2 linked regions of the Homo sapiens genome follow. The protein of the gene in region 2 purifies or fractionates together with the protein of the main gene of each other region. This does not show direct contact. Each region holds a gene or a part of one and is shown on either strand. Other genes may lie near its edges.

Region 1 (3,012 bases), on a different chromosome or scaffold from region 2:
AATCAGAGAATTGGATCCTGAAACACCTTATAAGTTCAGTCCTGTTGATTAGTATGTTTCCCTGTCCTAGAGTGCATGAACTTTCAAAGCCAGGACACAATCTTGTTCACTTTTCATGCCATCATCTTGACACTCAATACATGTTCAAAGAGTAAATTAAAGAAAAAAGAGATGCTCAAGTCAATTTATAAGTAATCCTCACAAATGCTTGCATACCATCAGTGAACAATTATTTTTTTATCTCCATGCTATAATCTTGCACAAGTTTCATTAGAATTAAATGCACTATCTGAAGTCTATGTTTATTAAATGAGGATTACAGTAGTTGGTTATCTTTGTGAGGGGTTTTGAGGGTTGTGGAACAGGATAACATTTTGAGGTACAAAAAATAATGAAGAGGATATATTCCAATTTCTTTCCTTCCCCAAGGCTTTTCATTACAGCTGTTATAAACCCTGGTAGAATTGATTGGTTTCCTTTTCAGCTTCCTGTTTTGTCCCTCAATGTTCACAAAAGTCCCATCTGATAAATGTATTGTTTAACCTCTCATTGTTTGAAAGAACACCTCTTTGCTCCCCACAGATTACAGACCTATTGGCTTAAGCAGTCCATCTAAATGCATGCCAGTTTCTTTCTTGATAAATTAGAGGCCTATAACCTCAAACCAGTTTATCTGCAAGAGAAGTGTGTGAAGTTAGACTCAATTCTTCCGCTAATGGAACATCGTAATCCTCCTTGTCATCTTTCCTTTGGCCTTCCTGAATAGAAATCATTTATGAGGAAGTTACATGAGCTCAACATGAGCCCCATGTCACTCAGCAAACATTTATTTGAGTACTTACAATGTGCTAGGCTTTGTTCTATGCATTTAAGATAGTGTATTAAATGTATTGACCTCATGAAGATTCTATTCTCGCAGTGGGGAGATAGACAATAAACAATTAATATAAGCAAATGTTAAGTATGTTAGAAGTATGTTAGAAGATGTGCTGTGAAATAAAGAAAAAGGTAGACCAGGGTATGAGGGATTAGGAGTGTGGGGGCAGCAGCAGGAGAGTTTCGGTATTAAATAGGGTGGACAGGGCAGGTCTCTTGGAGAAGATGCCATTGAAGGAGGTGGAAAAAATGTAGCCACTAAATGGGCTGAGGGTAGAGCATATGAACAGAGAGAAAGGCCAGAGGACAGGCTCCAAGGCATGCTTGGCAGGTTCAAGGAACAGCAGGGAGGCTCATGTGGCTGGAATGGAGTGAGCTAGCAGGAGAGAAGATGAAGTTAGAGGGAGAGAGAAAGTGGGGAGCCAGATCATAGAGGGCTTTGCAGGTCACTTGTAAGGACTTTAGCTTTCTAACTTTTGTAAGGACTTCAACTTCTACTCACAGTGAAATTGTGAAATTCCAGAACCAAAAAGAAGATCCTGGTAAAAGAGAAACTTTCAGCAAAATATATTTAACATTTTATTTGAGTGAAGAACAATTCATCCATCAGGCAGCACTGAGAACCAGAAGACATTCAGAGAGCTCTGCTTTGCGAGGTATGCAGTGAACATTCATAGACAGAAAACAAAAATTAAGTACAGAAATAGCTTGATTGGTTACAGATAGGCATTTGCCTTATTTGGACATGGTCTGCTCCAAATAAGGCAAGTTGGCAGCATGCAATTGGCTGTGACCTATCTGTTACAAAAATATATCTATATAATCCTAAATTAGGTTTCAGTTTATTTAAGTACTAAATTAGGTTGCAATTTATTACATGGGAACTCAAAGTCTGGAGACAGCCTCAGGCCAAGGTCCTCTTGCTTATTTAATTTAGCAATCCTAAAATTTTCCAGAGAGGAAACACATCACACACACACACACACACACACACACACACACACACACACACACTACCTACAAAAAAATAACAATTAGAAAGTAATTGGAGCTTGAAGTATTCTAGAAGACTTTGGAGCAAAGCCTTCCAAATTCTGAGAGGAAAATATTTTTAACCTAGGATTCTATTCATACCTACCCAGACTAACAAGTAGCAGGCAGATGATAAATATATTTTTAGGTGGTTAGGTGATGAAACACCTCCTCCAAATGAAGGCATAAACAACAATGCATGGGGATCCAAGAAACAGTGACTCCAACCCAAGAGAGCAGTGAACAAATCCACAGGACAGCAGCTAAGTAGGAGGCCTAAACATCACCTGGGGCAGATGGGGCGAGAGAGCAGAGAGCTTGGGAAAGAAGTCTCTGAGGAGAAAGAATGAGGCAATAAGTCAGATGCGTATTTGCGGACCTCAGAAAAATTTGAGTACATAGGAAACAATAGATGAAGGATAGAAATAATCCATTCAGATTCTCTCCTTTGCATGATGACCACATTAAACTTACAGAGTAAGAAATGTCATTCTAGATTTGATTCTACTGTTTGTCTTTGCAGTGAGCTATGTTTTTTTATAACATGTAGAAGTGAAATAAACTTGTCACAAAAATGCAAATTGTGTCACCAATTTTCAGCTTAACAACATAAAAATAATTATATACACTGACCCAGGTTAAGGACGGGTAGAAGTACGAATGTCCTTATCTTCCAGAGTGAAGTGAGGCTGTAGTCAGGCATTGCAAACTCACATAGTTAAGGGTGTTTTGTAGGTAAAGTACATGACGGTAGTTAGTGCATGCACTATTTTAAAAAGGCAGTAGTTTCTCTGCTCCAAAAGAGTATTGTCATGAAGAAAGAGACCCAGATGTTCCAGTTTACCCAGAATTTACCCCAATCCGGGTTTTTATGTAAAATATTTCAAATGTTCACAACTACTTAAAACATTTAAATATATGAGGGTCAAACAATACCATATCCAGCCTGGGGTTTCCAGTTTGTGACATTGCTACAGCAGATGGATAAGAAAATGAAGTAAGGTGTTTGAATGTATGAAATTAACCAGTATAGATGTTAAACTGGCAGCAGCAGCTCTAGAGTATGGAAGGGCCATCCGGTCAAAGTCAAGGTGAGGGGAATTT
Region 2 (3,658 bases):
CTAATGACCAGTGATGATGAACTTTTTTTTATGTTTGTTGGCTGCATAAATATCTTCTTTTGAGAAGTGTCTGTTTACATCCTTCACCCACTTTTTGATGGGATTGCTTTTTTCTTGTAAATTTATTTAAGTTCCTTGTAGATTCTGGGTATTTGCCCTTTGTCGGATGCATATATTGCAAAAATTTTCTCCCATTCTGTAGGCTGCCTGTTCACTGATGACAGTTTCTTTTGCTATGCAGAAGCTCTTTAGTTTAATTAGATCCCATTTGTCAATTTTGGCTTTTGTTGCCATTGCCTTTGGTGTTTTAGTCATGAAGTCTTTGCCCATGCCTATGTCCTAAATGGTATTACCTAGGTTTTCTTCTAGAGTTTTCATGGTTTTAGGTTTTACATTTAAGTCTTTAATCCATCTTGAGTTAATTTTTGTATAAGGTGTAAGGGAGGGTGGTCCAGTTTCTGTTTTCTGCATATGGCCAGCCAGTTTTCCAAGCACCATTTATTAAATAGGGAATCCATTCCCCATTGCTTATTTTTGTCAGGTTTGTCAAAGATAAGATGGTTGTATATGTGTGGTGTTATTTCTGAGGCCTCTGTTCTGTTACATTGGTCTATATACCGGTTTTGGTACCAGTACCATGCTGTTTTGGTTACTGTAGCCTTGTAGTATAGTTTCAAGTCAGGTAGCGTGATGCCTCCAGCTTTGCTCTTTTTGCTTAGGACTGTGTTGACTATATGGGCTCTTTTTTGGTTCCATATAAAATTTAAAGTATTTTTTCTAATTCTGCGAAGAAAATCAATGGTAGCCTGATGGGAATAGCATCGAATCTATAAATTACTTTGGGTAGTATTGCCATTTTCATGATATTGATTCTTCCTATCCATGAGCACGGATTTTTTTTTTCCATTTGTGTCCTCTTTTACTTCCTTGCTTTAGCATCCTAGAGAGGAAGTCTCTTCTATTTTTTATTCAGAACTTTCTGAGTTATCCTGGGCAATAAAGACCATTCTCATTAAATGTGCATTTTTATAAGCAGTTTTGCATAGATTTAATGGAAGCTAAACAGTACATGGTCTCCTTCTTCACTGATAACCAAAGACCTGATCCCATCTCAAACAGGAATCTTGGGTCTCCACACCCTTCCATGTTCGACAGCCACAGAAGAAACATTTGTAATGTTGCAGGTATAAATTCATGGTGACAATTTTTTCACGGCTTATTAAAAGCTGGGACGTAGGGAATAAGGAGAAGGCTCTGGTATATAAGGAAAAAGTATTTCTCAGAGCCCCTTGACTATCATGAGAATAAAAAGTGAAAAAGGAGTTAAACTGATAAGGCAAAACATCACAAGTAGCGTGTTGCGGGAAGTCAGGGACCCTGAATGGAGGGAGCAGCTGGAGCCACGGCAGAGGAACATGAATTGTGAAAACTTCTTGGACATTTATCAGTTCCCAAATAATACTTTTGTAATTTCTTATGCCTGTCTTTACTTTAATCTCTTAATCTGTTATCTTCGTAAGCTGAGGATGTATGTCACCTCAGGACCACTGTAATAATTGTGTTAACTGTACAAACTGATTGTAAAACATGTGTTTAAACAATATGAAATCATTGCACCTTGAAGAAGAACAGAATAACAGTGATTTTTAGGGAACAAGGGAAGACAACCATAAGGTCTGAGTACCTGCGGGGTCGGGCAAAAAGAGCCATATTTTTCTTCTTGCAGAGAGCCTATAAACAGGCATGCAAGTAGGAGAGATATTGCTAAATTCTTTTCCTAGCAAGGAATATTAATATTAATACCCTGGGAAAGGAATGCACTCCTGGGGGGAGGTCTATAAACGGCAGCTCTGGGAGTGTCTGTCTTGTGTGGTTGAGATAAGGACTGAGATACACCCTGGTCTCCTGCAGTACCCTCAGGCTTACTAGGGTGGGGAAAAACTCTGCCCGGGTAAATTTGTGGTCAGATGGGTTCTCTGCTCTTGAAACCTGTTTTCTGTTGTTTAAGATGTTTATCAAGACAATACGTGCACAGCTGAACCCAGACCCTTATCAGTTCTGTTTTGCCTTTTGTCCTGTTCCCTCAGAAGCATGTGATCTTCGTTCTGCTTTTTGCCCTTTGAAGCATGTGATCTTTGTACCTACTCCCTGTTTTACACCCCCTCCCCTTTTGAAACCCTTAATAAAAACTTGCTAGTCTGAGACTCAGGTGGGTATCACAGTCCTACCAATATGTGATGTCACCCCTGGTGGCCTAGTAAAATTCCTCTTTTTGTACCCTTTCTCTTTATTTCTCAGCCGGCCGACACTTATGGAAAATAGAAAGACTGGGGGCAGGTTCCCCGACAGTAGAGAAGTAAACATTTGCAAGTTCTACACACATGATATTTCAGAAGAAAAAGTTGGACAGTCTCTGACCTGAGACACATTCACCTCAGAATAAGCCATTTCTTTCTTTTTCTCCTTCTCTGTGATCCCTTCCCAGGTGTGATTATCTGCACAAATTACACCTGTTTCTTGAGAATATGCCTTTGAAGCATGAGCAAAACTCCCTCCCCTGAAACCACCACACCCACAGGCAGAAGGACCTAGAATTGCAGATAAAGACTGCCTTTGTTCTTTATCACAAGAGAGGTTCAGAACCAGTAAAATCCTACATAAAAACCAAAATGTGAGTTTCCCCTTTCCATCACTCAGTTGCCTTTCTCTGCCACAGATGCCAGAAATTTCTACTGCAGCAATGGGAATATGGGCCACACTGACCTGCCTCTACCAAATCCAAGCAGAGCAGTCTCTATGATCTTCATTTGGAACTAAAGCTAAACTCACCTCTCGTGAATGTATCTGAAAGCGCTCGTGATTGACCCCGGGCTCACCTTAGCCTCATATGTGGCACTTAATTCAAACAACATGGCTGCAAGGGAAGTGGAGCAAGATGACTAAATAGCACCCTCCAGCAATCATCCCCCAGATAAAACACCAAATAGAATGACTATCCAAATAAGAAGCATCTTCATAAGAGCAAAAAACTCTGGGGAGTGATCACAGGACCTAGTTTTAGCATCAAATCAAAGAGGCAGTGAAGAGGGTAAAAAAGAAAGCTGTTAATTGCCAACAGCAGCCCTCCTCCATTCCCTGGGAGTGCAGCTCAGCAGAGAGAGAAAATCCATGTGCTTACAGAAGGGAGAGTGCGGTGATTGTGAGACTGTGCAGTAAAACTCAGTGCTGCCTGTCATAGCAGAAAGCAGCATGGGGCAGAATTCAGCCAGAGCCTACAGAGGGAGCACTCAGACTAGCCCTAGTCAGAGAGGAATTGTCCATTTCAGTAATCAAAACCTGAGTTTCAGGTAGCCCCACCACCATAGGCTAAAGCACTCTGGGGTTCTAAATAAACTTGAAAGGCAGTCTAAGCCACTGGGACTGCAACTCCTGGGCAAATCCTGGTGCTTTGCTAGGCTCAGAGCCAGAAAACTTGAAGTGCATGTGACCTTGTGAGATGCCTACTGGGATGGCCAAGAAAGTGCCTGCATTATTACCCTTACCCTAGGCACAGGCAGTGCAGTTCACAGCTCCAGGAGAAAATCTTTCTTTCTACTTGAGGAAAGGGGAGAGAAGAGTTAATAAAAACTTTGTCCTGCAATTGGGACATCATCTCAGC

The links. The genes of interacting proteins can lie anywhere in the genome.
Region 1: the proteins of ZNF736 (region 2) and DNAJC10 purify together in Homo sapiens (co-immunoprecipitation; one large-scale study listed by IntAct). This does not show direct contact.

The regions. Positions count from the first base shown.
Region 1 is NC_000002.12:182,791,976-182,794,987, forward strand, and holds the end of DNAJC10 (dnaJ homolog subfamily C member 10 isoform 1 precursor), read left to right. Parts: 3' UTR 1-2,489; downstream 2,490-3,012. UniProt on the Homo sapiens protein: Endoplasmic reticulum disulfide reductase involved both in the correct folding of proteins and degradation of misfolded proteins.
Region 2 is NC_000007.14:64,330,904-64,334,561, reverse strand, and holds part of ZNF736 (zinc finger protein 736), read right to left. Parts: intron 1-3,658. UniProt on the Homo sapiens protein: May be involved in transcriptional regulation.